2 linked regions of the Homo sapiens genome follow. The protein of the gene in region 2 interacts with the protein of the main gene of each other region in a pairwise test. Each region holds a gene or a part of one and is shown on either strand. Other genes may lie near its edges. The genes, in order: KLHL40 and SPMIP4.

What was found.
Region 1: the proteins of SPMIP4 (region 2) and KLHL40 interact in a two-hybrid assay, tested with the Homo sapiens proteins (2 studies listed by BioGRID and IntAct).

What each region holds. Positions count from the first base shown.
Region 1 is NC_000003.12:42,688,537-42,691,118, reverse strand, and holds part of KLHL40 (kelch-like protein 40), read right to left. Parts: intron 2,510-2,582; coding exon 2,402-2,509; intron 2,251-2,401; coding exon 2,065-2,250; intron 261-2,064; coding exon 114-260; intron 1-113. UniProt on the Homo sapiens protein: Substrate-specific adapter of a BCR (BTB-CUL3-RBX1) E3 ubiquitin ligase complex that acts as a key regulator of skeletal muscle development.
Region 2 is NC_000007.14:25,135,208-25,139,035, forward strand, and holds part of SPMIP4 (sperm-associated microtubule inner protein 4), read right to left. Parts: intron 1,587-3,828; coding exon 765-1,586; 3' UTR 1-764. UniProt on the Homo sapiens protein: Microtubule inner protein (MIP) part of the dynein-decorated doublet microtubules (DMTs) in flagellum axoneme. May serve to reinforce and thus stabilize the microtubule structure in the sperm flagella.

The sequences.
Region 1 (2,582 bases), on a different chromosome or scaffold from region 2:
GGATCCGCTTTGCCCCCAGAGGAGCTTGCCCAGTGCCTTGGTACCCCACCATGGTGCTATGGGGTGTCAGCCTTGCTCATGATGCCCCCTTGCCTCCCCAGGGTGGGACTCACCTCCAGATGTCATTGAGCTCTGTGGGAACCAGCTCTCCAGACTCCGTCTCCAGTGTGGCAAAGCCACCAATGGCATAGAGGGTACCCACCAGGCTGACCAGGCTGAGTGAGCTACGCTCCTGTGGGAAGGCCTCGAAGGGTGCCCACCTGGGGGTGTGTGAGAAGGTGCATCATTGGGATGCCTCGGCAAGCCCAGTGACTGTCCCTGCCACCCAGCACCCACAGCTCCAACTGCAACCCTTTGCAATCCAAGTCCCAGGCACCCATGCCCCCAACCCCATTCCCCTTCCCTGTCCCTCTGGTCTTCCCTTCCTTCCCCATTCTCTTGCTCCTCCACTTTCCTTTCCTTGTCCTCTTGCCATTCTATCCAACCTGTCCAGCAAAGTCCACCATGGATCTCCCCACTGCCCCTACTCCTCTCCTGAACTAACTCCACCCTCCAACTCACAACCCCAGCCCCTAGCAGGCCCCCAGCCTTGCCCTGGACGCAGTCCTTTTGCCCCTCAGCGGCCCCTGCAGCCCCACCCACCTTGCACACCTGCTCTATCCTTCTTCTCCCTTCACAGCCCAGTTGTTCTCAATGTATCTTCGCTACCCTGGCTCCTGCCTTGGGCCTTAGTCCCATCCTCCAAAACTGACCTTCCTGAGGTCCACAGTCACTGCACACGCACTGAGGTCCTACAGCACACAGCCCTGCTGACGTGACTTTCCTCACCCATCTCTTCGGCCTCACCTTCGTGGCCTCCTTCCTGGATAATGCAGCTGCCTCCACCATCAGGGCTTGGACCTCAGCTCCTCCCATTTACACTCTCTCTCCTGAGGGAGCTTGGCCCCTCCGTGTGCTACTGACCCCCAGATCTCTCCCTCCAGCTCAGCCCTCTCTCTCCCGGGTGGGGTCCTTTTGGACACCCCCAGGTACTTCAAGTCCACATGTCCTAACTGGACCCTCACTTTCCCTACCCAATCCCAATGATTATCCAGTAAATGGCCTCCCACCCTCACTCAGAAGCATGTACTTCTCCCCCTCTCACCCCCACATCCAATCAATAGCTAAGCCCTGTTTCTCCCACCTCCTAGACTCTTGCTACTCAAAGTGTGGTTCATGGCCCAGCAGCGTCAGCATCTCCTGGGGGTGCGTTAGAAATGCAGACTTACAGGCTTTCAGCCCTCCGCATACCGAGAATCAGAATCTGCACTTTAAGGCGATCCCCAGGAGATTTGCATGCCCATCACAGTGTAAGAAGCCCTGGCCTGTCTTTGTCCGGTGCATCCCCTCAACCCCATCTCCGCTGTGCCCCCAGCTCCAGGCCTTTATCACCCCTGACCTTCCTGACCCCTGGGAAATCCCTAATCTGCTCTCTATATCAGTTGCCATGAAGTACTTTAGTAGAACACAGATGAGATACAGTCCCTCTCCTGCTGGCCCCCGCTCCAGCCCCAGCACCGCCATCCCAACTCCATCACCCACCCACCTCCACCCAGCTGGAGCAACACCTTCCCTCCTATAGGCCTTGAGTTTTTTCTCCAAACTGCCTCAGCACCACCTTTCCTTAGTCTGGGGCAACCTCCTCCCACCACCCTCACCCCTTTTGCGAGCTGAGTCCAACTGTCTCTCAGTTCAGTTTTCTCTTTTCTGATGTCCCAGGCAGGGCAGCTTCTGTCTTGTTCACTGCTATATCCCTTGCACCAGGCCATTGCCTGGTATGAGTCCCTGAATGAGGAACCTGGCATCCCCTCCCCCAGCCCTGGGAGCCCCCTCCTGCAGACCAGGCTGGCCATAACCCTTGCCCCGCCTCCCCACCTCACTGCTGATCAGGAGAGAAAGCCTATTTCTATACTGATGTCCAAAGTCAACACTGGAGACCCAAGACAGGGACTGCAGCTCCTGCTGGGGCTGACAGAAGCCCAAAGCCATGCAGTTGTCCTTGGCGGAAGGGACAAGCTTTCATACTTGTTGTCTGTGATGCTGTACACTTCGGCAGAACTGGTCAGCCCTGTGTCGGTGACCCCAGCTGCCACGATAATGCGGCCATCATGGACAGTGGCCCCAAAGAGTGAGCGGGCGGTCTGCATGGGTGCCAGCTCCTTCCACTCAAACTTCTTGGGGTCATAGACGCACATCTTGTTCAGGCACTTCCTGTGGGGTGGAGGGTGGGGATGGGTGGAGAGAAGCAGGAGCCCAGCCACGCCTCCCTGCAATCACCTGCCGGGGCAGCCAGGACAAACCCCTGACAGCCTCTGGGAGATTCTACCTCTGCTCCACAGACTCACTCCAGGCCCAGCCTCACCTGTCACTGCCTTTGCCGCCAATTACGTAGACAAGGTCCATGTGGGAGAGCACTGTGTGGCCATACACCACGTAAGGCAGCGGGTCCGATTCACCCCATTTGAATGACCTGGAGGAGACGGGAGTGGGGGTGGGGGAGGGCACCCATCCAGGCTCGGCTCAGTCCCTGTCTCTGCACCCAT
Region 2 (3,828 bases):
TCCTTTCTTGCTATAATTAGAACTCACCAGTTGCTAATTAAGGCCATTGCTAGATCTTCAGTAAAATAATTTTATCTGCATAAAAGAAACAGTTATGTTTCTCAATCAGAAGGTTAAGGGTAAGCAAACAATTCAATTTGTAATGTGTACATGCAGAGAGTTTTGGGTTTCATTTTTTTCGCTGACTTATTTTCTTTACATGTTTACATAAAGGAACAGAGTCCACATACTTTTAAGACAATATAGTTTTTAGAGGTGTCCATCCCTCAATTAACTAGGTGTTTGGGTTTTGTCTTTTCTACCTAATGCTACTATGTACAAAAATTTACATAAAGGGACAGTGTTCTCATTTTTATTAAGATACTATAATTTGTATAGTCATTCATTAATTATTGATCATTTGAGTTCTTTCCAGCTTTTCAATTTTTTTTGGTGAAACAATGATGTAAACTTTGTTGTACACATTGCTTTTTGTGATTTTGGAAAATTTCCTTGTATAATCTGAAGATGAGAGATTAAAGACTATAAATTTTTCTAGTTCTAATATTTTATTGCCAAATTGTTAAACTTTTCAAGAAGTCATAACATCACCTTTTCTGGGTTCCTCCAACCAGATACTAACTTAAATTCCTGAAAATGTAAACCTCACTAACAAGGTCCTTGTGGTTTAATCTAGAAAACAGAATCCAGCAATACGAAGGAAATTCTGTTATATTTTTTAGCTTCTTGCAAGAGGCTGGGTTTTGAAGGGAAGAATGAGTATCTCAATTATAGAAATAATAGGAATTATGGCCATAGAATTGGTGCTTCATCCCCGAATGCTCATTATCCCTGAGGTCTTTATGGTCTTCTAGAATTGATTTATGGAAACGCTTTTGTGCACCAGTTTTTGAAAAAGAGTTCTTAAGCTCCAGCAGGTTGGTCTGAGGTTTGGTCACTCCAGCTCTAGGAATCCAACCAAGAACAGGTCTTGTTTCTTCATTGTTTTCCATATTCAAGAACAACTCTTCTTCTGGCTTACTTAAAAAATGTTCTAAAGTGAAAGCTTCCGTGTCTTGTTTATTTTGTAAAACACTAGGTTTACTAAGGCTAACAGGGTCTGGACACATATTATACTGATCACGTAGGGGAGATTTAAGATTTTCATAGTGAATCCAGTGGTCTGGTTTACAGTAAGGTGTGGGTTGGGTTTTTAGTGACTGCTGTCTCCAGTATAAATCTTCTGTCTTTTTAGTATCTGTGATTTTTGGAAATGGCTTTATGTCATAAATGCTAGTTAGGTCTTTTGTTGGGTAACAAGATGGGAGTTCATAGGTAGACAGCAAGCTCTGTTCTTCTATGATCTTCTCTTCAATATCCTGGTTTTTATGGGTCACACCGGCTGGTATGTTATCACTAAGTGCCACCATTTCTTTAGAACTGGGTACAAAGGTATGAAAATTACACAAAACTCTAGGAGTACAATCTGGACAGGAACGTGGTCTTTGCTGGACTATAGCCTCCAGAGAACGTCGGTTCTGAATTAATCGGGCAATTCGTCCTTCCAACGGTCTGGGAGGTTTGAAGACAGGGTGGAATTTTTCTTGCTGTAGTTGTGGGATAAAAAGGAGAAAAAAATTGATCAGGGATATTGCCACAAATGGTAGGTCAAAAGTCATACCCATTTTCATTGTCTGAGTACACGAGATGGGCATAGGAGTGTACATTGCAATGCTCTTTGATACTAATTTAAAGACATTGAAATTTGGGTCCAAATACATTTTCCTCCTTTACTGGTTTTAGAGAGTATGAAAGGGGCATGTTTTTTATTTGGCTATACAGAACTCTTTCTGTGTGGGAACTCTGCTTTTAAACTTCAAAGATATAAAGCAATCACTGGAATAAAACTTCTGTCCATCACTAACAGATGGCATTAGCCGCGTGTGCAGTTATTTAATCTCAGCCAAAGTCTCCTTTATTAGGCCTTAGCAAGTGCCCTTAAACCTTGGCTGAGTCAGAATCATCTGCAGAGCTGGCAGGAGATTCCTGACTCCTAAGACCCTCCAAGACTGTGGGTCAGAAGGCCTGTAGTGGGCCCCAGGAAGCTGAATTTTCTTTTTTTTTTTTTTTTTTATTTTTTCTTTTTTCTTTCCTTTCTCTTTGGTTTTCATTCTCTTATGGTTTTGGCAGGTTTTGACAGTATTAGAGTAATGCGAACCTCATGAAACAAGTTGCGGAGTGTATTAATTTGCTAGCGCTGCCATAATGAGGTACCACAAACTGGGTGGCTTCAACAATAGAAATTTATTGTCTCATAGTTCTGGAAGTTCAGCCTCAGTGTATTGGCAGGGTTGGTTTCTTCTGAGGGTTGTGAAGAAAAATCTGATTCCTGCCTCTTCCCAAGATTCTGGGTGGTTTAATGGAAATCTTTAGTGTCCCTTGGCTTGTAGAGGCATGACCCCACTGTCTGCTTTCATGTTCACAAGACATTCTCTCTGCAGCATGTCTACCTCTAAATTTTCTTTTTATAAGAACACCAGTTAGATTGGATTAAATTCACCCTCATGACCTCATTTTAACTTGATTACCTTGGAAATGACCCTATTTCCAAATAAGGTCACATTCTGAGGTACTTGGGATTATGCTACAACTTCAACAAAAGAGATTACCCATAATATGGGGTAATTTAACCTTCCTTACATTCTAAAAATCTTGTGTAAGATTGGTGTTATTTCTCCTTGAAGATTAGAAAAGATTTACCAGTAAAACCACTTGGGTCTAGACTTTCCATTTTAGGAGGGTTTTTGATAAATTCAATTTATTATTATGTATAGGACTATTCAGATTTTCTTTATCTTCTCATGCCAATTTTGGGAGGACCACTTTTTAAGGACACTTGTCAATTTTAAGTTATGATCTTTTTAATGCCTGGAGAATATGTAATGATAATCTTTTAAAAAAATTCATTATAACTGTGATTTATGTGTGTATTCTTTTGTTCTTAATCAATCTAACTAGAAGTTTGTCAATTTTGTTGATCTATTCCAGGGATCAGAAAACTTTTTTCTGTAAAAGGCCAAGTAGTAATAAGCTCATAATTTAGTGTAAGCATTGTGGACCATGTGATCATCATTGTAACAATGCAACTCTGCCATTGTTGAATAAAATCAACCATAAACAATCCATAAACAAATGAATATTGCTGAGTTCTTTTATTTTCTTTTTGTGAAGATAGAGTCTTGTTATGTTGCCCAGGCTGGTCTCTAACTACTAGGCTCAAGCAATCCTCCTGCCTTTGCCTCCCAAAAATGACAGGATTACAGGCCTGAGCCACTGTGCCCAGCAACTGTTGCCATGTTCTAATAAAATTTATTTACAAAACCAAAAATAACCACAATGAGTTAATACTCCACAGTCACCGTATAATCAAAAAGAGAGAAATAAATAACTGTTGGCATTTATGTTGAGTAATAAAAACCCTCATACATTTCTGGTTGGAATGTAAAGAGTTACAGCCACTTTGAAAAATGGTTTTGAAGTTTCCTAAAATCATATAACTACTCTCCCAAAACAAAAACATATGTCCATACACAGATTTGCATGTAAATATATGGAAGCTGAATTTTCAACGAGCATTTCAGGTGATGGTGAGGCTGGAGATTTGCTATGCTTTGAGAAACACTGGTCTGAGGTGTCATGTCTGTGCTTCTTTTTAAGTTGTTTTATAAATATGAACTCAATTATGTCTGGTAACTGCGAAAGTAGTGAGTGTATTTAAAGTGCTATTAATAGATACACGCTGGGTGGTGGGAAGAGGATGCAGCTGACTGGGAGGGGGTATGAGGAGGA